2 separate regions of the Homo sapiens genome follow, and region 2 is linked to region 1. Evidence: fine-mapped expression QTL. A gene starts in region 1. The other region holds a variant in brackets. All regions are shown on one strand. Distances are from middle to middle. Region 1 holds the start of LINC02995 (long intergenic non-protein coding RNA 2995). Region 2 has its middle 6.1 kb from the start of BOD1.

The links. PIP is the estimated chance that this variant, and not a neighbour inherited with it, causes the effect.
Region 2: its variant is fine-mapped to the expression of LINC02995 in visceral fat (GTEx, PIP 0.91).

Annotation. Positions count from the first base shown.
Region 1 is chr5:173,570,788-173,586,711 of GRCh38, reverse strand. LINC02995 (long intergenic non-protein coding RNA 2995) reads right to left here and starts at 7,078. Exons shown (of 4, transcript NR_027108.2): 1 at 7,030-7,078; 2 at 6,337-6,483; 3 at 2,804-3,434; 4 at 1,644-2,602.
Region 2 is chr5:173,618,101-173,627,318 of GRCh38, reverse strand. No RefSeq gene overlaps it. Among named protein-coding and RNA genes, the nearest start is that of BOD1, 6.1 kb to the right of the region's middle. The variant AAGATGGTGAAACCCC/C (reference allele first, on the strand shown) is at 5,001.

The DNA.
Region 1 (15,924 bases):
CCCTACCCTAGAGATTTGTGGAACTTTGAACTTGAGAGAGATGATTTAGGGTATCTGGCAGAAGAAACTTCTAAGCAGCAAAGCATTCAAGAGGTGACTTGGGTGCTGTTAAAGGCATTCAGTTTTAAAAGGGAAACAGAGCATAAAAGTTTGGAAAATTTACAGCCTGACAATGCAATATAAAATAAAATCCCATTTTTTGAGGAGAAATTAAAGTTGGCTGCAGAAATTTATTTGCATAAGTAACGAATGAGGACCCGAATGTTAATCGCCAAGACAATGAGGAAAATATTTCTAGGTCATGTCAGAGACCTTTGTGGCAGCCCTTCTCATCACAGGCCCAGAGGTTTAAGAGGAAAAAATGGTTTTGTGGGCCAGGTCCAGGGTCCCTCTGCTGTGTGCAGTCTAGGGACTTGATGCCCTGTGTCCCAGCTGCTCCAGCCATGACTAAAAGGGCCAAGGTACAGCTCAGCCTGTTGCTTCAGAGGGTGGAAGCCCCAAGCCTTGGCAGCTTCTATGTGGTGTTGTGCCTGTAGGTGCACAGAAGTCAAGAATTGAGGTTTGGGAACCTCTGCCTAGATTTCAGGGGATGCATGGAAATGCATGGATGTCCAGGTAGAAGTTTGCTGAAGGGGCGGGGCTCTTATGGAGCACCTCTGCTACAGCAGTGCAGAAGGGAAATGTGGGGTCAGAGCCCCCACACAGAGTCCCTACTGGGGCTCTGCCTAATGGAGTTGTGAGAAGAGGGCCATTGTCCTCCAGACCCCAGAATGGTAGATCTACCAACACCTTGCACCATACTCCTGGAAAGGCTGCAGGCACTCAACAGCCCATGAAAGCAGCCAGGAGGGAGGCTATACCCTGCAAAGCCACAGAAGCAAAGCTGCCCAAGACCATGGGAACCCACCTCTTGCATCAGCATGACCTGGATGTGAGACATGAAGTCAAAGGAGATCATTTTGGAACTGTAGGATTTGACTGCCCCACTGGATTTCAGACTTGCATGGAGTCTGTAGCCCCTTTGTTTTGGCCAATTTCTCCCATTTGAAATGGCTGTATTTACTCAATGCCTGTACCCCCATTGTAGCTAGGAAGTAACTAATTTTTTTTTTTTATTTTACAGGCTTATAGGTGGAAGGGACTTGCCTTTTCTCAGATGAGACTTTGGACTGTGGACTTTTGAGTTAATGCTGAAATGAGTTAAGACTTTGGGGGCCTGTTGGGATGGCATGATTGGTTTTGAAATGTGAGGACATGAGATTTGGGAAGGTCCAGGGGCAGAATGATATGGTTTGGCTGTGTCCCCACCCAACTCTCATCTTGAATTGTAATTCCCACAATTCCCACATGTCATGGGAGGGACCCAGTGGGAGTGAATTGAATCATGGGGGTGGGTCTTTCTTGTGCTGTTCTCATGATAGTGAGTAAGTCTCATGAGATCTGATGGTTTTATAAAGAGGAGTTCCCCTGCACAAGCTCTCTCTTTGCCTGCTGTCATCCTTGTAAGATGTGACTTGCTCCTCCCCACCTTCCACCATGATTGTGTGACCTCCCCAGCCATGTGGACTATAAGTCCATTAAACCTCTTTTTCTTCCCAGTCTCAGGTATGCCTTTATCAGCAGCATGAAAACAGGCTAATATATACCCCCAAAGTTAGATACTTTATCATATTACAGTTGTGTGGATTTGGATTTGCAGGACTCAGCTGGTTGATTCTCTTGATGAATGTGGTGCCAACGGAGGTCACTCCATGGTAATCAGCCTGTAGGTGTGCTGGGCTGGTCTAGAGATCCCAGGATGGCTTCACTTACATGTCTGGTGACATTGGCTGGTGGGGGCTGGCTGCAAGGCTGGGCTCAGCTAGGACCACAAACAGAGCTCCTGAACATGGTTTCAGCAACCTGGTGGTATTAGGGCAGTTGATTACATGGCAGCTTCAAGCTCCCAGAGAGTGTCCTAAGAGAGGTGAAGTGAACTGCCACCCTCTAAAAAGCCCAGGCCTGGAAACTGACAAGCACCACTTCTGCTGTATTCTGTTGGTCAAGTAGTCACAAGCCTGCCCAGGGCACCCCACCTCACCTCTCCATGCAGGGAGTGACAAGGAATTTGGGACCATCTTCAATCCACTACAGTCCCCATTCTCCACTTGCAGTCCGAATTCCCCCACAGGCAGCCTTTCTGTGTATCTGATGTGCGTCCTTGAATTTGAACATAGTGTCTAACGTAAGCTACCTAAATCTGTGTGGACATCCCCTTCCTTGCTTCTGACTGATAGATGCTTCTCCAAGGTGTACACCCACCACATTTACTTCTGTCTTCCCCAGGGATGGGTGCCTGAGTGGCCAACGCCCCTGCCAGAAACAATGCTGAATGAGCACCTCCCCACATGCCCCTTTTGGACAAAAAGTGTCTCTGCGCCGCATACCGAGGAGTGGCATTGCTGTGGGCAGAAGACTTACGCAGTCGACTTGAACCAGCACCATCAGACAGCCTCCGGAGTGGCTGCACCTTCTCATACTCCCTTGCAGAGAACAAGGGTTCCTCTTCCCCCCCTACTCCAGCTAACACTTGGCATTAGCTGACTTTCTAATTTTTGCTGACCTGATGAGTGTACAGAGTAAAGTTTCATGTTGAACTTTTAAAACAAAGGGGGAAAATACAGAGGGAAAAGAATAGGAAGGAAAGTGGTTAGGAGGGAAGGAAATGGCAGCTGGCTAAGTGGGAAGAATTGGGAAGTCAAGTTTTCTGGACTGCACAGTACCCTACAGAATCCTAGGGGCCATCAGAGCAGCTGCAGGTCACCTTGTGGAAAAGTGCAAAATACAGTTTAGACATTTGGAATTTGGCTTCCTGGCAGCCTGGCTGGAAGGTGTTGGTTCCACAGGGCCAAGGCTGGCTGTGCCTGCCTCCCTCTGGGTCCTGGAAGCTGAGGGAGGTGGACCAGCCTCCAGCTCCCAGGTTCTTATGCTCCTCCTATTTATCTCTCAGTCCTTTCCTGGCAGCCAGAGAGTCCATCTTTAGCGGGGACCTGTACAGTATTGTTTTAATCTTCAGCTCTCTCTGCTTCCTCTCTGTTCCCTTCCTCCCTTCCTCTTCTCCTTGTCTACCACACAGAACAGATGTGGAAAAAGCCAGGCCTTTAGGAACATCTGCTGAGACACCAGCTGCCTTCCTCCTGGGCTAAGGAAACTGTGACCCCTCTGATTATTGGGTTTCATCCAAGGACCTCAGTTCTCTGGCCAGAATATTTGCATCGAAGTCAGCAAGGTCTTCTAGCTATTTAAGAGAATTTGCTAAATCCCTGAAGATCTGTACATATAGAAGGAAGGGAGAGATGCTATTTTTTAAACATTGGCTGCAGTTGGAGCTGGCTGGCCCAGAAGTGCAGAATTCCCAATGCTTCCCAAGGAGCATGCATCACTCTCGGAAATACCTGGACACATAGGAGAGGTATAGGAAAAATGAGTTGAGTTGTTCTGATTAAGAAAGGAACTGCAATTTGGAACTTGATCAGCAGCTGCATGCTGACTGCTAGAGGAAGAAGGGTTTGTTTCTGTTTTTGTTTCTTTGTTTTTTTGGGAGGGGACAAAGTGATTTCTGAAAGAGAATGAGAGGGCCTAGAAGTAAAAATGAGGCAGAGGGAATTGGAGGAGGAAATGGCCAGTGATAAATTCCTCCTAGCAGGAGTTCCCCGCCCAGATGGGGACTTCAGTGTAGAATCATTTACTTTGGGGATGACACCTCTTGTTAACTGCAGACCTGCAGGAAACATCTGCTAAACTTGACAGCTGTGAGCTGCTGGTGGTCATTGAAAGACCAGCATTAAGTTGACAGGCAGAAAGAAAACACAGTCCCGGGGGAAGAAAGGAATGAGATGGGAGTGCTCAGTGTGAACAGGAAATCAGAGCCAGGGATGACCAGTAAAATATAAGCCCTGGGGGAATCTAGAAACATCTTGGAAAGGGCCCAAGGCTTTTCCATAACATGTGGACTGGGAGGCTCTCGGGAAGGACCCCAGACTGGTGAACTTGGGAATATGCAAGCTGAAGGCATCTGGGATACACGAGTGGGTGCACACACGCACATGCGCACACACGCACATGCACACTCACACGCACACATGCACACACTGCAGATCCCCTAGAGTAGTGGTCCTCAACCTTGGCTGCACATTTGAATTGCCTGGGGCTTTAAAAAATGCCAGAGCCTACCCTCACCCCAATGCCACCAAACCAATGACATCAGAATCTGTGGGAATCAGACCCACACGTCAGGTTTTCAAAGCTCCCAGGGCTGAGCAGCATTGTTCTACAGCCTGACAGCTCCAGCTGCCTGGAGAGCAGATGCCATTTACAGTCTCCTGCAACCAAAGACTCGCCTGAACCATCGTGCCCTTCCATCACACACCATACCCAGGCCTTCTCCCTTCCTTTCTCACCACCTCCCCTACCCGCTTCCCAACAGATCTCCTCCCACAGTCACAAGATAAGACACAGGCGCCCAGTGGAATTTAAGCCTGAGAGAAACCACAAATAATTTTGTTTAATATAAGTATGAGTTGTGTAAAATTAGTAGATGTCATGCAACATACTCATACTAAAAGTTATTTGTGATTTCTCTAAAATTCAAATTTAACCAGGCATCCTGTGTTTTTAGTTGCTAAATCTGACAATCCTAGATAGAGACAACTTAAAAACAAATAGAGAGTGTCCTTCCTCGACAAGGGACAGAGATCTGGTACCACCACTAGCACTAGACCCAGAGTCAAAGCCCAGGGCTCCTGGGCTGAGGCCCCTGGGAGAATCAGCAAAGCTTTTCGCCTTCCCCACACGTGCTGTGGGCGCGCAGTACTGCAAGTTATCACCACCAGAGGGCGCACTCTGAGTAGGCGGGAGGAGCCCGCAGGGACAAGACCCCAATCCACAGATGCTTAGAGAGACAGTGAGGGCGCAATCCCCAAAGGAGCATTAGTGTTCAACTGGTGGGGTCCAGGGACATTTCTTCCTCTTCTAAACTAAATGATCCCGAAGACACCTGAGATTCAATGAGAGAGAAGGGTGAGCCCGGGGTAGAATGGTAAGACTCAAAACCTGGCAGGTTTCTTTTACAGTGATTTATTGCTTTGATTTTTAAAAATTGCACAAATAAAATAGACCATTCAGAATTAAACGTGGAAGTCCTCCTTTTAATGTCCCCATTCACCTGCCTCGCATGTGTGTCATGGATCTTCCTAGATCTACTTCTACGCACGTGAGTGCGTGTGTGTGTGTGTGAGTGTGTCTGTGTGAGTGTGTGTGTATGTGTGTGTAATATGGGTTTGTTGGTTAAATTCTTTACACAAATCCCATCAGAATATGTATGTAGATAATTTCTAGAAATTTCTTTTTTCATCTAATAGATTTTGAGGAGGATCACTCTGTGACATAGGCAATATTAATTTCATTTACTCTTCACAATGACCCTATGAGGTAGGGGCTAGTGTTATCGTCCGTTATACAGATGGAGAAACTGTGACACAGAAAGGCTAAGTGAGTTGCACAAGATCACACAGCAAGTAAGTGGCAAAGCTGGGATTGAAACCTAGGCTATCTGGCTTTGGAGCACGAATGCTTAATCACTCTTCTGCAATACTTGGCTTTAACCACTGCATCACAGTCTAGCCTAGAGATGGACCATAGTATATTTATAACCACTGCCCTTTTGATCCATATGCAGGCTGTGTCCAGGGTTCCACTAGTATAAAAAAGGATGCAGAGAAGAGCTTTGTGCAGCAGCCAGAGGGGTTCTTGCAGGGTAGTGGCCCAGCTGTGGAGTATGCACAGGTTACATTCCAATAAATACTGTTAGATTTTATTCCCAAGAGGTTGAAACTTTCCCATTCCCAGCAGTTGTGTTAGTGTGCCCATCCCCCTTGGTGCCATCGAGGGCATGCAGGCAGAAGGAACAGCCTGTGGAGAGGGGCGTGGATATGGTTTGGGGAATGGCAAGAAGTCCAGTGAGGCTGAAGGTTGGGTTGTAGTTGCTGGTTGCGAATGTAATCTATTTTATGCTCTGCAAATTTGATACACGATACCACGATATTTCATTGTAGTTTTTGTTTGCATTTCCCCAATTACCAGGAAGCAATATCATCTTTTTGTGTGTTTATGAGCCATTTGTGTTTTTTCTTCTGTAAACTTTATGTTCATATTTTTACACTTTCCCAATGGGATGTTTATCTTCTTGGTTTGTAGGTGCTCTAGTATTATGGGATGTTAGTCTTTTGTCAGTTACATTTGCACGAATATTATCTCATGGCGTGTTGCTCTTACAAACTCAAGTTTTTAGATAGTAACCTGGATTGTCAAATGCGACAAGACGGTTTCTCAGTCACAGCTGTGGAATGTGTAACGAGACAACCTCTCTGAAGGGCAGCTTGGTAATAGATACCAAATGTGCTTTAAATCGTGTACACTTGCTGATGCTGGTATTCTATATCCATCCTAAGGAAAGATCAGGGATAAAGACAGCAAGTTAGCTCTGAAGATGGTCATTCCAGTTTTGTTAATGATGTAACAATTTGAGAACCTTTACATGTCCAGTAATAGCGCATTGGAAAAATCAATTACATCTTAATCACTGGCAGGAATATAATGTTACCATGAAAAAAGATGCAATAAAACTGTGTTTTTGACTGTACTAGTAAATGAAAAAATTGATAGCATGAAAGATTTTGTCCAGTATTATTCCATTTTTGTAAAAATGTTTAAAGTTCAGGCTGATAAGATATACCCCAAAATGTTGATAATGATTTTTCTCTGCATGGAGCTATTATGGGGTAATCTTTACTGTCTTATTTTTGCTACTCTAAATTTTTTTTAAATTTCTACAAATAATATTAATTACTTTTATAATAAATATATATTTTTAAAATTATACATACATATATATATACACACACGTATGCATATATTTATACCTAATTTTTTCTTTTGACTATTGGTGGTAGACAGCTCCCAGATGATCCACAGGCCCTCAGTGAAACTTACCTCCTGTTATTCATGCTTTTGTGTCCTCTTTTCTCAAACTGAATCAGAGCTGGTCAGTGTTACCAGTAGAATACTGCAGAAGTGATGGTGTGTCACATCCAAGGCTAAGTCATAAGGGCATTGTGACTTCAACCTTTGCTCTTGGATCACTTGCCCTGGGGAAGCAGCTACCATGTTGTGAGGCTGCTCAAGTAGCCTTGTGGAGAGGTCCACCTGGAGAGAAAACAAGGCCTTTGCCGCAGCCGGCACCAACTTGCCAACCATCTGAGTCAGCCACCTTGGAAGTGGATCCTCCAGCCTCATTCCAGCCTTCAGATGACCACTGTCCCAGCTCATATCTAGACTGCAACCTCATGAGAGACCTGGAGCCAGAACACCCAGCTAAGCTGTTCCTGAATTCCCGACTCACAGAGACTGTGAAAGATAATATATGTTTGTGTCTGTTTTAAGTCACTAAGTTTTGGCTGTTGCCTAACAGTAGATAGCTGATATAAAGCTTAGTACCAGAAGTGGGGTGCTGATGGAACATAAACCTACCAATGTGGGAGCGTCTTTGGAACTGAGCAGAGGGCAGAAGCTGAAAGGACTTTGAAGAAAGTGTCAGAGAAAGCCTAAAGGGCACTGGAGAAGCCAGTAGTGGGAGGAGAATGTTGGTGAGGGTTTATAGGAAAGTGAGAACAATGCATTAGAGACTGGAAGAAAGGTGATTCTTGTTATGGAGAGGCAGAAATTAAGCAACACTGCAACAAGATGGAAAGCTCATAAATTGAATGATCTAGCTAAGGAGACTTTTAGGCAAGCCCAGATATTGGGCTCTTCCACTAAGAGTATCTTGCTACAAATATAAAAGAACCAGAAAATGCAGCCCTGCCCTTGGCCTTGGCCTCTGGGCGCCATCTCACTCAGTAGCATGAACTGTGCCCACTGGCCTCCTTGCAAGTGACTGATGCAGAAGGTGGAGAGTTGTCATGCTTGCTGGTTCCCAGGATGGTTCTCAGAAAGCTTGGAACTGAGGTGGAATCATGTTCGTGTTCCTCCCAGAGTATAGAGCAGTTAGACTCTCGGTACATTTCTGGAGAGAGATGGGGGTGAAGAGTGCTCAAGGGAAGAATTGAATCAATGCTCCCAGCACTCCACCCTGCCCATGGGAAGTCAGGTTGCACAGAGGCTAACCTGAAAACTCAGTCACAATGCTCCCTGGATCTGATCATATTTAGGGTATACTTTGGGGTGCCTGGGCCCCTCAGCAGGTGGGTCTGGACAGAGGCTGCACACTGCAGGTTCCTCCCATGTTTTTCTTCCTAAGGATGGAACCACTCACATGCATGATACTCACACACATGACACTCACACGCATGCCGTCTCTCCTTGGGATACCTGACGGTCTGAGCTTTAAAGTAATTTACCTTTATTTACCTGTAATGAACATTCGTCCCGCTTTCTTCTTGTCCAGTGCTTCAAACATCTTTTCTTTGGGGAGCTCCTGCCTCCTCAGTCCCTGACTGTCTAGAGGAGCCAGAAACTCTATTTCTCAGACAGGAGGGTGCAGGCATGTGACCAAACTCACCATACAGATGTACCTGCACCAGACTCAGATTCAGAGCCAGGGGCTCCAGGACGAAGCAAGGTCCCATGGGCTCCACCCTGGCGGGGAGGCGACATTGGAAGCCCCTTTGCAGTTGCCCTACTCAGGGCAGGCTGCCGTGTTGTTTCCTGGAGCTGCTCTGCAGTAGGTGGCACGTTTGGGCCATATTCTAGAGCCCAGTTCCCAGGTCATTCAAAAGATGCTGGGGCCCCCAAGTAGCCAGTGATAAATCCCATTTCTGCTTAAACTCAATACAAGTGGTTTCTGTTGTTTGCAACCAAGCCTGCCTGAGGCCTTCTACTGGCGCTGCACCTTTGCAAGGGAGACATTTGGTGTGATATATAACAGCAACTTTGGGACGAATTCCACTCTACCAGACACAGCTGGGAGCAGAACAATCCCAGATACCTCTTCGGGTAAATGGACCCCTAACTAGGGAAATGCATTTTTTAATGTGCTTTTTAAATCACTTGGAATGCCCTGACCTCCCCACCTCCTCCTCTGTCCCACTCGGGTCCACCCTCCACATCACGGCCAGTGTGATCTTTCTCCACAATGATCTGGTGGTGCTACTCCCCATGTGACACCTGCGCTGGGTGTCTCTGTCCCCACCCCATCTTCCTCCTCCCTGCTGTGCCCACCCAGCCATGCCATGGGGACAATCACTCTTGCTCTCTGGCTTCAAGTGGGGTTTGGCCAATGGGAGCATGGGCAGGCCCTCACAGGGCAGGAAGAATGGACTTGGACATCTGTTACCCCCGGTCCTTCCCTGCCAGGTTACCACAGGTAGGCTGTGTCCCTTTACTGCAGACTCATATGTGCTTCTCCACACAGCCACCCTCTCTGGGTTCTGATAGCCACTCCCTGGCCTCCTCTCTTCGGGTCTAGGGGTAGGCACAGCTCCCCAAAGAGACAGTAGCACCTCACAGCTGTGTCAGTCCCAGGCATGCTCCATGCTCTGCTGGCTTCCCTAACCCCGTCCACCCCTTTGCAGACAGCGTCTTTATCAACCCACACTTCAGTTACCCATCTTAGTGTGTCATCTGTGTCCTGTTAGGGCCCTGGCTGAGACAACAGCCTTCACTCAATGTTTAGGTTTTGTGCAAGACGCAATTCCTTCAGGACTAAGCTGAGATTTCAAGACCCTATGAGATCTGGCCCCTGCCAGCCTTTCCTGCTCATCTGTCCTTCCCTGACTATGCCAGGCTTTCTCCCTCCCTGCCTTTGCCACTCCACCAAGGCCCTCACCCAGGAGCACCCTCACTCTTCTGGCCTGCCGCTGCAGAGATGTCTGCTCTAGGCAGCTGTGCAGGCCAACTAATGCCCACCACAAAATGTCCATGTCCCAATCCCTGGAACTCAGGAATGCTACCTTCTATGACAAAAGGAACTTTGCAGGTGTGGGTAAGGATGTGGAGATGGCAAGAGTGTCCTAGATTATCCAGATGGGCCTTAAATGTCATCACAAGTGTCCATAATGAGGGAGGCTGACGGGCATTTGAGTGCAGCAGGGAAGGCCGTGTGATGTTGGGTGCAGAGGTTGCAGGGGTGCATTTTGAAGAAGGAGAAGGGGGCTGCAGGCAAGGATGCAGGCAGCCTCCCAAAGCTGAACAGGGCCAGGAAGCGATTCTCCCCTGGAGCCTCCGGAAAAGACCAGCTCAGATGACACCTATAGCCAGGGAAACTGATTTCACACTTAACGACCTTCAGTGTCATAAGAGAATACATTTATGTTGTTTTAAGCCACTAAGGTAGTGGTAATCTGTTACAACAGCCATGAGAAACTAATCAGATGCCTTTCCCAATCCCAGACTGGGCAGGCGGACCCCTCTGAGTTTCTGCCACCCGTACTCACTCTGAGTGGCACCTGTCAATCCGTATCAGACCTGCAGTTTACCTGTTGATCTTGCCACCAGATCCCGAGGCAGGGGTTGTGCCTTTTCATGTCTGTTTCACCAGCACCTGCAGAGAGCCCAGCACGCGGTGTGGCATAAATGAAAAGTTGAAGGACAAATTGCATACTTGGCATTGTCACTCACCAACTGAAATTCCACAAAGCAGGGATGCTTACTTATGATTTTCAGGAATCTAATAAACTCTTCCTGGTGACCCATCAGACACCAAAGTGGGCTCCTTGGACACTGGTTGTCGGTTTTCTACGATGCTCCACTGGGACTGAGTCAGAGCTGGACTCCTGTCCTCCTGTGACTGAATTAATTCCTCTGATACAGCCCCCATCCTCAGGGTCCCAGGGAGTGTGAATTTTGGGAAGTGTCTCATATAGCATGGAAAGTGGAGCAAAGGGCCTGGGCATGTGCACGCCACCGCTTTCTTTTCTCTCTGCCCCATTTTCTCCTTTCTATCCCCGCCCCCCCCCGCCCCGACATTCAGGGACAGGGACTGCAGCTTTGTCCCTGCCCAGAGCTCCCCTATCACGCGCTGGCTGAGGCTGCAGGGTGTGCAGCCTTCTCTGCACGCTTTGCCCTCTCGGTCCCAGCATGGGGACTGGGCAGGAGGCCCACAGCTGCTCAAGGGGCTGGGGGAAACTCACACAGCGGCTCTTCCGCCCTCCCTGCACTCCTTTTCTGAACACCTCTCCTGCCCATCCCCCCTCTCCTGTCATGAGAGTGCCCAGTTCTGCCACCCCACTCAACTCCAGAGACCTCAGCCAACACTTCCACCAAGAATGGGGTTGGGACCTGCAGGGCTACCCCTTAAGGCCCTCTGGTCCAGCCTCCACACCCATAGGTCACCAGAGGACTTAACGGCTTCAACCACTCCCCACCGCAGGGCTCCTCACTGAGCTTCCAGCAGGGCCGCCCTCTCCTGTCCCTTGCACTAGCCTGGGAAGTCTTTGAGCACAGCCATCAGCAACTTCCTCTTCATGTTCCCAGGGCCTGGAAAGGGGCCTTGCATATCAATTTGCTGAAATGTATCAGGGTAGGGGCTGGGGGCACGGTTCAACTCTTAGCAAGGCAGCTGGGGGACCTGAGGTCGCAGGGCAGGAGCCGTCCTCACGCTGAGTTTCTGTTTCCTTCTGTGTAGAATATGGCTAGGGAGGAGTCCTGCTTCGAAGGATTGAGAAGAGATTGAAATAAGAGCTCCCAAGGCAAATTGAGAAGTGGGGAATGTGCTTCCATTGAGAAAAATGAAAGACAGACCCTATCGGCACCTCCCCTATGATTGAAAGAGGAACCTCTGGGCAAGGCAGAGGAGAGACATTTGTGCTTTCATAGTTTGTAGTGGGAATCAGCCAAAAAAATGCTAAAAAGGATGGTATTATTGAGACAATTGGTGAAATTTGAAGAAGGTCTGCAGATGAGATAATACTATTGCATCCATGTTAATTTTCTTGATTTGAACAACTGTACTGGATTATGGAAGATAATGACTTGTTTTTAGGAAAGACCCACGGAACTATTATAAGGGGGCATTATATTTCAAATGGCTCAGATCTTAAAAGTATGTAGAGACAGAGCAAAAATTATAAAGCAAATGTGGCAAATTGTTAACAACTGAGGAATCCTGCTAAAAGCTATGTATTAATAGAAGGTTTTTGTGCCATCCTTGCAACTTTTCAACTAAGTTTGAAATTGTTTCAAAATGAAAGTTTTCAAAAACACTTAAAAACATTTGCAATATGTTCATTCATACTGTTTGAATCTTGTTCGGTGAGAATACATTCATGCGTTAATAGAGTGTTGCGTGTTTTTTTGTCTGTCTGTCTGTTTGTTTGTTTGTTCTCAAGACGGAGTCTTGCTCTGTCTCCCAGCTGGACTGAAATGGCGTGATCTCGGCTCACTGCAACCTCTGCCTCTCGGGTTCAAGCGATTCTCCTGCCTCAGCCTCCTGAGCAGCTGGGATTACAGGTGCCTGCCACCACGACCAGCTAATTTTTTGTATTTTTATTAGAGACGGCGTTTCACCAGTTGGCCAGGCTGGTCTCGAACTCCTGACCTTGTGATCCACCCACCTCAGCCTCCCAAAGTGCTGGGATTACAGTCGTGAGTCACCGCGCCCGGCTGAGTGTTGCGTATTTTTAATGATTGAACTGACACAGCGTGATGGTTAATTGTATGTGTCAACTTGATTGGGCTCAGAGATGCTCAGGAGCTGGCAACGCGGAAATACATCCGGCATTAAAATAAATGCAATTAAAAGTAAAACACCAAAAACCCCACATTATTTCTAGGTGTGTCTGTGAGGGTGTTTCTGGAAGGGGTTAGCGTGCATCCGTGGACTGACTGAGTCAAGATCGCCCTTCCTTGTGTCGGGGCGTCCTGCAATCTGCTGAGGGCCTGAAGAGAACAAAAGGCAGAGGAAGGGTGAGTGCCACTCTTTCTGCTTGAGCTGGGCCGTCGGCTCCTCTGGTTCTCGGCCTTTGGGCTTGGACTGACCTACTCCACTGGCTTCCCTGATCCCCTACTTGCAAACAGCAGGTCGTGGGACTTCACAGTATCCTCAGTCATGTGAGCCCATTTCTGATAACAAACCTCTTTCTGTCCATCTATACATGGCCTACTGGCCTGCAGAGTCCCGAGTAATCTACACAGTAGGCGAAACCTTGTGGGCTGAAAATCACAAACTGTTAAATATTATTATATTTGTCATTCTACTTATTAATATGATTGTTATAATTATTGTTGTTGACATTGTCAGTAGTTTGAGGGGTGACTGGCAAGGGGTGGGTTGTCTTCGTGGTGGCCGGGCAGTTCATTTTCTCGCCTCTGCATCCTGGATCCCGGCCCCAGGGCTGCTGCTCCCGGCAGGAGCCATGGCCCAAGGAACTCTCGACGGTCCGCAGCTGGCGTTCGGCAGTGACCCTTTTTCTCCACTAGAGGGCGCGCGCGACGCCTCGTCCATGCCGCCGGGCTCCACGGAGCCTGAGCTGCGGGCGCTGAGCCGCGGGAAATCCACAGACCCGGGCTGCAGGGAACCTGGCAACTGCAAATGAAGACAATCTGGGGTCTCTGGAACCCAACTCGGTTCTCTGCTCCGTTTTATTCCCCCGCATAGTTGGCTGTTAGCTTGAGGATGGCATTGAAAATGCATACAATTCAATAATTAATTCCAGACTGGATCTGAGGAAGCACAGTTAAGTTAACCAATGCGGACCGCGGACTCCACACCATCAAGGAGGGCTGCCCAGAGGTGGCAATGGGCAGCCCATGGGTCAGATTTTGCCCCCAGATATCCTTTGTTCAGCCTTCATGGTGTCTGAAAAAACAGAATGCAGAGAGTTTAACACTGAGTTTTTTAAACTTGGGAGAGTTCATATAACACCCAGATTCCTGTTGGTTTTTTTCTTACAAAATAAGGTAAAAGACACCCACATCCCCCCATGACAACACCTCCCTCTCTCTAGAGCTGTGGAGCCAGCCATTGCTCCCCCTGGACTGGGCATACACTCTCCAGCTCACCACAGTCCTCACCCTGGCACCACCTCACTGGGTTATGTCTCCTGCCTGGCCCTGCAGGCATCTGGCTTTGCCACCTAGACCACAGGAAAACCTAAATTATCCAGATGCCCTGAGAATGGGCCAGTTCCCATCAATTACATTTTCTGGTCAACTACCATTTTTAAGAAAAAATCCTTGAGATTGCAAGGCTTTCTGGGAATAAATTTTTAAAAAATTATGTAAAATGTTGCCTGCCTCCCTGTCATCATTACAACCACTGTGGAAAAGGAGGCATATGCTTGAGGCTGTGTGACCTTAAACAGTCACCCAACCTTTCTGTGCCTGTTCTCTTGCTTGTAAAATGAGGACTTTAATAGCCTCATCAAATGCTTTGAGAATGAGGAAGACACTCCATGTCAAAGCACTTAGCAGAGCCCCTGGCACATAGCAAGAGCCAAATAAGCGTTTACTATTATTAGTAGTAATTACAGGTTGAGCATCCCTAATCTGAAAATCCAAAGCCTGAAACACTTCAGGTCCCAAGCCTTTCAGATAAGGTATACTCAGCCTGTATTAATCACATAGGGTAGCTGAGTACACGGGGAAACTAGGCCATAGTTCTTAAACTTGGGTGCATATCAGAGTCACCTGAAGGTCATGTGGGCACAGAGATTGCTGGGCCCACCTCAGAGTTTCTGATTCAGCAGGTGTGGGCTGAAGCCTGAGAATGTGCATTTTTATCAAGTGCACAGGTGGCTGTTGATATGCTATTTGCATGAGCACACTGACTGTCTTAGTCCATGTTGTATTGCTGTAGAGTGATACCTGAGCCTGGGTATTTACCAAGAAAAAAGCTTTCTTCGGCTCATGATTCTGATGTCTGGAGAAGTTCACAGTTGGGCATCTGCATCTGGGGAGGGCCATGGGCTCCTTCCATTCATGGCGGAAGGTGAAGGGGAGTTGGTATGCAGAGAAAACGTAGTGAGAGAGGAAGTGAGTGGGGAGCCGGATGCCAGGCTCTTTAACAACCAGTTCTAGAAGGAATTAGCCAAGCAAGAATTCACTCCAAGGGAGGGCATTAATCTATTCAAGAGGGATCTGCCCCCATGACCTAAACTCCTCCCATTCACCCCACCTCCAATATTGGGGATCAAATTTCAACATGGGGTCTGGAGGGGACAGACATCCAAACCATGGCACTTACTAATTTCAAAAGTGTACCTACACATTGACTTGATTATCTGCAAAAAAGTCAAGGTAAGTATTTAAAGAGTAGACATGTATAAAGTACTTAGTACAGTGTCTAGCAAATAAGTGTTATAATTATTATTCATAAAATTGGGGATAATCAGGAAAAATCTGAAAACGAAAACTAAAGAGAAGGTTGTAGGGAGAAGCAGCTTTGGGCTTTTGGGCTAAGCGGTTGCAGGGGTCACCCTGTTTTAATCCCCTCTACAAGCCTATGGAGGAAGAACATGTAGGGAAAAGAGTTCTCAGAAATGAAGAGCCCATGCTAGGTTGCCCAGGTATGAGGTACCAGTGACCTCCCCAAACCCAGGTCTTTCTGCCTACATAGGGGCTGAGGTCTTCCCACTCCTCCATGTTCGTCTGAGCTATGGCTAATTTGAGTTTCAACACTTGATCTGGAAGTTCCTCTGTCTGGAGTATTCTACAAAAGGCCTGCACGCCCTGGGGTCCAAGAGCAGAATTCAGGGTCATGATGCAGTCACGGAAGGACGGCCGTGAGGGCCTCACGGGACAGGAAGGAAAGGAGGTGTGCAGGAGAGCCGAGGCCGCAGGTGGCATGTCACGAAGGAAGGCGACTGGGCCAGGAGCTGCACAACTGCAGCTGACCCTGTTCTGGGGCAGGTTCCCCGCATCACGTGTGTCCCTGACCCGCCCCAGCCCTTC
Region 2 (9,218 bases), 44 kb before region 1:
ATGGGTCTGAATGAAGAGGAATGAACTGTAACCTCCAAAGAGCTGAGTGACAGAGTGACATTAGGAAGGGTCTCAAGATGCCACTTTACCTTGTTATGCCAACTGCGATTCCACAGCTGGATATACTCATGCAAGCTAACACTTGACAATAATAACATGGTAAACTTGTACTGGGGGTCTTGTTTTATCATTCCTGGAACTCTCTCAAATACATTCTCTTTCAAATGCCTTCCTCATATCCACCCTAAAAATAAGGTCTTTTAGTCACTCTATTCTACAGATAAGGGAAGTGAGGCTCACATGCCCAAAAGGTGACCAAGTCTGACCAGAAGACCCTTGCTTGCACTGGGCTAAGATATACAAGGCCTGCCCCTGGAGAAGCAAGTTTGAGAAAAGCAAGGGAAGGCAGGTGCATCTTGCCAGTTTCTGCCCTCCCTTCCAGCTTCACATTGACCTCTAACTGGCAGTACTGCTCCAAGGCTCTTAGTTGCAAGCAACATAAATGTATTCTGGGTGATTTAAGCTGAAAGGGAATTCATTGAAAGATTCTAGGTAGCTCACGGAATTGACAGGAAGACTGAAGAACTAGGCTCAGGAAATAGGTAAGAAAAAGGGCGGTCTCGCAGCCAGAATCACAAACAAAACTCTTGCTCCAGAACCAGTCCAGTGACATCATTGCTGCAGCTGCTACAAACACAGGGCCCCTGTCATTGCAGCTGGAGCACTGTCCCTTCTGGCCATGGCTGTGCACAGAGCTGCAAAGGAGGCTGGGAAAGTGGGTATCTGGTATTTTCTCTACCCATAGGAAGGCTCTGCCACCTAACAAGCCTCAGGGGGTACAGAGTTCCCCCCAAATAGGAAGGGCATTGAGAGTTGAGATGCCAGGTAACCAAATCTCAGGCAAATGTGCACGTATCAATCAGGTTAGGCTCAGTAATGCTGTAGTAACAAAAACATCTTAAATCTGAGGGGCTTAAAAACAACCAAGGGTTATTTCTGGGTCACGCTTACATGTCCAGCAAGGGGCTCCATTCCAGGACTTTCTTAACTCAGACCTCAGGCTGCTGGAGCCGCCTGATCTCAAATATTTCCCACAGTCACCATGGCATTGGGAAGGGGTGATTAGAGCAGCAATTACAGGCTCCCAACCAGAAGTGACATATGTCACTTCCACGCATGGCTCACTGGCCAGACCTAGTCACATGGCCCTGCCTTGGGGCCAGCAAGTGCCGTCTTGCCTCAGATCTGGAGGGCAGAGAGCTGGGGAAATCTGGCAAGTAGTGTTGACAATGCCCAGGGTCCACTGAATGGGGCCTGCCAATCAAAGCCCACCTGGAAAGGGAACAGAAGACAGAGCACTGAAATGGAGGTAGGAGAGCAGAGTTTCATTCCTGGTTGAGCCCCTGAGAACTGTACATGTATCTAGCAGCACCTAGGGGCTAGAGGAAACCCTTACTTCTGGGTGTGGCCCCAGAAGACACTCTGCTCAAACTGCAAGTGGCAGCAGCAGATGTTGGAAGCACAGCCCACGAATGAAGCACTGGAGGGCCCAGAGTAAGGGGAGCTGGGAGCCAAGCCCAGCCTCTTGGAGCTCAGGCAGGCAGCCTTTTTCCTGCCTACAGGCTCCTGAGCCACTGTCTCCTAAGGAAGATGGGTGCTTCACTGTAGCCCCAGGCTCCCTCTGGAAATAAATCCTCTTCTTGTAACTGTCTGACAGGCAGCAGGAGCCAGGATGCCTAGAATATCCACAGGCTTCTTGGGCCCACACTTTGTTTTGGTTGCAGAGAGATGACAGGCCAGGGTGTGTCCCCAAGAAGATCCGGGGGAAGCGAGGCACTGTGAGCTGGATAGTGAGTGGGTGGGAGGCTGACTATGGGTCCCTTGGGACATGGAATGTCCTCTAAGAACAAGGTTGAAAGTACAATTTGCCACTTGTTTATTTGTTTTTAATGTGGCTGAAACATCAGTCCCTCCTCTGATACCTTCAGAAAGTCAATCAGTACCAAATAATCCAGGTGCTGAGATTCGTATAAAAGCCCCTAAATTTAAAAGAATACAGTAGAGGCAGGACTTCAATGCAGAGGTGAAGAATTTGAAGAAATCATGGAGGGGGTCAGGATTGGCCTTCTGCAGGACCTAGGATGGCCATGGGGAGAGGTAGGTTGGGAGGCAGTGAGCAGGCTGAGCCAGATCTCAAGGAGCAGTGATGCCCTAGCCAACACCCGCCCCATGAGATGATCCCTGCAGCCCCCTCTCTGGTCTCCCTGCCTCCAGTGTCACCCCATCCACTCACACTTCCGTGCTGTCCCAGAAGAATCTTCGTAAATTTTGTATACTATGCTGCTCCTGCCCTATTGAAAAGCATTGTCTTTACTCCAAGGTCAAATTCAATCTCTGAAATTGCAGCATTTGAGGTCCCAGGCTACTTCATCACCCTATCTCAAACACATGCTCTGCAACCTCCACGCAGCTCATGGGACCAGCCCCACCTTTTCAGAATATACTGATACCCTTCAAGCCTCTGAGCTTTTGCTCAAACTCTTCCTTCTTCCTGGGGCCCTGAGCCACTCCTTCCTCCACCTACTTACCCGGGAAAGGTTCTTAGTTGTAACAGAAATGAATTCTGGCAACTTTAAGCAGCAAAGGTATGCAGGATAGAATATGAGTGACTCTCAAGATCTCTGGGAAGGCCAGAGATTCAGGCTGAGAGACTACAGGGATAGGATCCACACCCACATCACACCACTGGAGATCCTGTAGAGACGTCACTACCCTGATGCTGAGACAGACACGACATCAGATGCCTCCCATGCTGCCCACTCAGCTATTACACATCTCTGTGGGACTTCGCCCTGGCCCCTGGGAAGGCTGGCTGCATTCAACAACAGCCACCTGTGCCCTGAGAAAGCTTTCTGAACTCAGGAGTCATAAAATCTATACGCATGTCCCTCCTCACCCCGGCATGGCCCCTCCCCTCTACAGCAAATCACCACAGCTGAGTCCCTTTTCTTTCTAGAATCATCATGGGAGCATGGTCTAGAGCCTGGCCCTTACCAGGCATTGTCTCATATAATTCTCACAGCATCCCTGTGATGTAGGTTCTATTATTGTCCTCATGTCACACACAAGGAAAGAGGCTCCAAGAAGAGAGAGAACCTCTCCTGGTGGTGGGGCCAGGATTCTACCCCAGACCTATCTCTGAAGGCCACAATTCTCCTGATATGTTATAGCAGGAGGAACCCAGGCTTTAGGTATCAGGCAGTCTTGTTTGAACCCTGGCTTCAACACCAGGCAACTGATGTCCCTTCTCTGCCCCTTAGTCTTCTCATCTGTAAAATGGGAATAACATCTGTTTGCCTTGCAGAGCTTTTGTCTCAACTAGAGGTGATGGGAGTAAGGAGGGTAAGGACCAGGTATGTAGAAGGTGCGTAATAAATATTACTTCCCTTCCCCTGGCTGGCACCATCTGCTGTTCTCCTCTCCCCATCCCCTGAATCTCTAGGATTTCAGCTGCATTTTCAGAAACATCCAGCACATGCTGGGGCCTGCTCAACCCTCGGAAATGAAAGGGATTCCCACGAGCATCAGCTCAGATACTTCTGCTTGCCTCTGACACAGCCTGGCCACAGAGAGGTGGTACCTAAGCCACACCCAGCCACACCTGAGCCACACCCAGACACCCAGAGCTAGGCTTCCCTGTGCTCTCTTGGCACAGGATGTGGGAAGTCCTTGGATGAGATTGGATGGCAGGAGAGCTATTCCCCTGGGCCTCACGGTCCAGAGTCCTCAGATTTAGATATTCTCTCCAAATAACGCTAAACATGCAATTGCAGATAAATATTGGCAGGAGCAAAGGAGACATTTGTCCGCAGCTTTAAACTTTGTCCCATCATTATGCCCCAGGGCGTGCAGCACACGTGAATGTATACACATAATACATATTGGCTGGGTGCGGTGGCTCACGTCTGTAATCCTAGTACTTTGGGAGGGTGAGGCAGGTGGACCACGAGGTCAGGAGATCAAGACCATCCTGGCCAATATAGTGAAACCTTGTCTCTACTAAAAATACAAAAATTAGCCAGGTGTGGTGGTGTGTGCCTGTAGTCCCAGCTACTCAGGAGGCTGAAGCAGGAGAATCATTTGAACCCGGGAGGTGGAGGTTGCAGTGAGCCGAGATTGTGCCACTGCACTCCAGCCTGGGCGACAGAGTGAGACTCCATCTCAAAAAAAAAAAAAAAAAAAAAAAAAAAAAAAATATATATATATATATATATATATATATATTCTTCATTATCTTAGAAGTAGCACAATCACTCATCACACTGTATTGTATGCGTGGCAGCAGTGGAATTGTTAGATTGTTCAATGTTGTCTCTCACAGATCTACTACTCTTCTGATCACCCTGTTTCAGCTCCTTTCTTTTACAGGCAAGAGGTGCAAAGGCCAGAGAGGATACATTGCCAACAAAGGTCGTAGAGCTTGACTTTTGCATTCAAGTAAATCTTTACCAAAGGTATTCAGTTTTAGGCAGAAGTGGCCAGCCAGAAACAAGCAGGCAGGATGGGAGTAGGAGTTGAGGAGAAAATGATTTCGAGAAACCCACGTGCCGAAAATAATCTCTCTTTCTGCTCCGTTGACGGATCTGATGTTTCTACCCAGAGAAACAACAGTTCCCCACCCTGGCCCACTCTCAGAACCCCCTTGAAAACTTGCTTAAAAATGTAAACGGCTATGGCCTGTCTCTACAGATCCATTCTGTGGGTTTGGCAGGATGACTGAGCACCTGTATGTTTTGACGACGTCCTCAGGGAATTTCAACAAACACCAAAGTTAAAGAAGGACTGACCTAAGCTGTCTCAAAGAGTTATAGAGTAAACTAGGTTGAGTCACTCATAGAAATTATCTGGGCCGGGTGTGGTGGCTTACGCCTGTAATCCCAGCACTTTGGGAGGCCAAGGCGGGTGGATCATGAGGTCAGGAGTTCAAGACCAGCCTGGCC[AAGATGGTGAAACCCC/C]GTCTCTACTAAAAATACAAAATATTAGCCGGGCGTGGTGGCACGCGCCTGTAATCCCAGCTACTCCAGAGGCTGAGGCAGAGAATTGCTTAAACCTGGAGGGGCGGAGCTTGCAGTGAGCCGAGATCACACCACTGCCCTCCAGCCTGGGCGACAGGGCGAGACTCCGTCGCAAAAAAAAAAAAAAAAAGAAAAAAGAAAAAAAAAAGAAATCATCTGAAGGCACAGGGCCCTGGGGAAGAAATTTGATCCACTCATGCATTTATTCACTCATTAGCTTTCATATTTGGTCATTCCAAAAGTGATGGCGTTAGTGGAGGAATGTGCTCAGGGTTGTATCAGGCAGGATAGGCTAGGTTACGCCACAGTCAAAAACAACTCCAAATCTCAGTGGCTTAAAACAAAAGGTCTCTTTCTCACTCATGTTACATGTCGGGTTATCTGGGGCCTCTGCTCCACATCACCTCACTTTGAGGCCCAGGATGATAGATTAGCCATCATCTCAAATTTTCCTGGTTACCACGGCAGGTGGAAAGAGAGCTCTGGGAGGTCTTATGTTGGTATGAAAATGGCCCGGCCTAGAAGTGACACAAGTCACTTCTGCTCACAACTCTTTGGCCGGAACTAGTAACATGGCCCCAAATAACCCTCAGGGTGTTGGTTCTTGAGTGCTGAACCTCCCTGCAGGAAGAAGGAAGGATGCTACAGCAGGAAGGAGTGGTGCTTCTATCAGCAAGGCAAAGCTTTCCCAGAAACCCTCAGTTTCTCTCTCCTCAGCCAGAACTGGGCCCTACGGTCACTCTTAGCAACAAGGAAATCACAGATGTATATACTTTAGCCAGATGTGCTGCAGCCCCAGACAAAATTGGATCCTGTTTATAAATTAGGGGAAATGGATATTGGGTAGGCAACTAGAAGTAACTGGGGGCAGAGGAAGTGTTGCTAGAGAACACCAAGTGTGAAGACAGAGGTAGAGGATGGATCCAGACCCAGCAGCAGTAGCATGCAGGATTTGGCCATGAACTTGGCTTCACTGAGTCCACCACTTTAGAGACTGGCTGAGTCAATCCCTACGTCATCATAAGATTGAAACTATCAAACTAATACATTTATTAGTGTTAACTCTAGATACACATTAGCCAAGACTTCTGCCCAATAATAGGCTACAATTAAATACATCGGGTTGTTGTATCAAGTCCACATTATTAGTTATTAGCTATTGAGGGCCTACTCTGTGTCAGGTTCTACACAGATATTGTCTCTAATTTTTGTGACAGTTCTTCAAGGCAGGTATTACTATCCCCACTTTACAGATGAGCAAATGGAGGCTCAGACTGGCTAATGGATTGCCCTAGGTCACACAGCCAATAAGCAGAGGGGCTGGATCCAAACGTAACCCAAAACCCAAACGTCTCACCTTTTTCTCTGTATTGTATCAGGTTTCCTCTTTCACTATACATCCTCTATTACTAATAATTTGACATGACAATGTGTTAAAAACACTGTAGCATGAAATCTTGTCCAAGATGCGTATTTGGTTGGAGAGATGCTAGTAGTGTTGCTTGGTGCTGGGGATTCCTGTGTATTAAAGCCCTGTTTTTGTTGTTTTTGTTTTTGTTTGTTTTTTTTTGAGACGGAGTCTCGCTCTGTCGCCCAGGCTGGAGTGCAGTGGCGCGATCTCAGCTCACTGCCAACTCCGCCTCCCAGGTTCACGCCATTCTCCTGCCTCAGCCTCCTGAGTAGCTGGGACTACAGGCACCCGCCGCCACACCCGGCTAATTTTTTGTATTTTTGGTAGAGACGGGGTTTCACTGTGTTAGCCAGGATGGTCTCGATCTCCTGACCTCATGATCCGCCTGCCTCAGCCTCCCAAAGTGCTGGGATTACAGGCGTGAGCCACTGCGCCCGGCCCCTGTTTTTCTTCTTAATGCGTATCAGATCCAATCTATCATTAGAGATGCTGGAAAACATCAAAAGGAAACAAACAACAACAACAAAAAAGCAGGGATCAGATGGTGCAGATGTAGCCAAAATGCTATAGACAAGGCAATCTCAAGAAACTCTGGATGCTGTTAATTAAGAAATGAACAGCTGTCCAGACTAAGAATTGGCAAGACTCCTTGGATGAATAAACATAGGTAAGAAGAAAAAGAGCCACCTCATGATCACAAAGAAGGACCAATAACTAGTCTACCCCAAGCAGCTTTGGTGTCTAAATGCAGCCCTGGGCTCAGTCTTAGGGCTCTGGAATGCTCTCGCTTCAGGACCAGGATCTTCGATTAGAAGGTCGGAAGGTTACCAAGGCAACTCCCAGATTATCTTCTAACCTTGGGCCTGCTCCAAGCCCCAGACTCTTAGTCCAGTTTAGTCATATATTATGGACAGATTCCTAGATTGTACTTGACCCCTCTGAATATTGACTATATTCTGACATTTGGTCCAGGGCATTATCAAAAGTCTTAAATGGCCTTATCCTATACCTAGAAGAGTAAATTTCCCATTCACTCATCCTTTATTGTTTTTCATTCATCCGTCATATATTTGTGGAGAGCCTGATGTCCCAGGCACTGTTCTTGGTGCTAGGGATGCAATGATGGTTGAAATGGACAATCCCTGCCTTTGTGGAATTTAGAGGCTAAGAGGAGAAATAGAAGTTAATTAAATCACCTCCTGACCCAAATGTAAATTCATGATGATAATATGTTATTAAACATTTGCTAAAGACCAGGAATTGTGCTAAAATGGATTGCCGAAATGGCACTTAAGCCTCTCCACTGTCCTGGGGAAACTAAGGTTCAGAGGGATGATCCAGCTTTGCCAGCTGGGATTCCAATCCAGTGTCACCTGATGCAAAAAGTCCATACATGTGACTACTTTCTTATATCTCCCTTGGCAAATGATAGATCTCATTTCTTTTCCAGTTTCAGTGAGGTCTAGATTTGGGCTTGGGGAAGTTCTACTTTTTCATGTGGCCTTCAACAAAAAATATTCCAGCACCTAAAATGCGTAATTCTTTGGGGTCGGGCAACTTATTACAGACAAGTTTTAATACTGAGAAGCAACAACAATTTGCTACGTGAAGGATACCTGAAAACCAGATTACTACCTAAGCCAAAGTTAAAACAATGTTCCGCACAGCCATTTCCGAATGTTTTGGATTATTAATACAGCAATGGCGCTCTCTGATGACTGCTGGTGTGTATTACATGTCTCTTGAAGGGAAGAATACATTTTGGATGTTGTGGAGGCCTCCTATTCCACGGTTTGGATAAATAATAAGCCTCCCTTCAGCTTGATCATCTTCACTCCTCATCCCCTTCCCCTTTTATCCCTCATCATTTACTTTGATTGCAGAGGGAAGGTCATGGATACAGAATGCAGCCTTTTGTCAATGTTCAGAGACCCAGCAACCAAGACACAGGTCCCCATGACAGATAGTGAAATTGTCACAGTGTGAACCAAGTGCAGACAATCTCCAGGATCACTTACCTATTTAAGTCATGACAGATTCATCCATCATCTCCTGCTAGAATGCTCCTTCTTTTCTGAAGATTATGGCTACACATAATCCTACCCACGCACTCTGTGATGCTATCCCACAGCTTTAGGAAACAGACAGGAATTTATACATTCTCTTTGAGCTAAGAACTATCGTGCTAAGAGCTGGAGACACAGTGATGAACAAGTCGTGGTCCCCATTCTAAATATTACACCCTATCAGGGGACTCAGGTGGCCAATTTGTCTGTAAATCATTCACTTCCAATTATAATAATTGCTACAAAAAATGAGGCTTTGAGTTTCTGTAGCATGGAGGAAATATCTCATTGGATCTAGGGGTCAGAAGAATTTTCCCTGAGGAAGGAGAGTAAGATGTGGGGTGCCAAAAATGGAGAAGGGACTAGTCAGAGTGATCAAGGGCTTGCAGAAGAAAGAACCTGGGGCTGAGGCAGCCTGAACTGGGCTTCTCCTGGGGTTAAAGGTGAGTGATCAGTGTAGAGTCAACCAGTAGGAACAGACATTAGGTAATCTCAAGGATGGTGAGCTATTAAGAGAGAATGTTTGTCATTAACTGACCCATTGTGAATGATTGAGCTGGTGTTAGAGGATGAGTATAATCCAACACCTGAATGTTTCTTTTGAGGGTTAATTTAAACTCTCTTGGACAGGTGTGGTGGCTCACACCTGTAATCCCAGCACTTTGG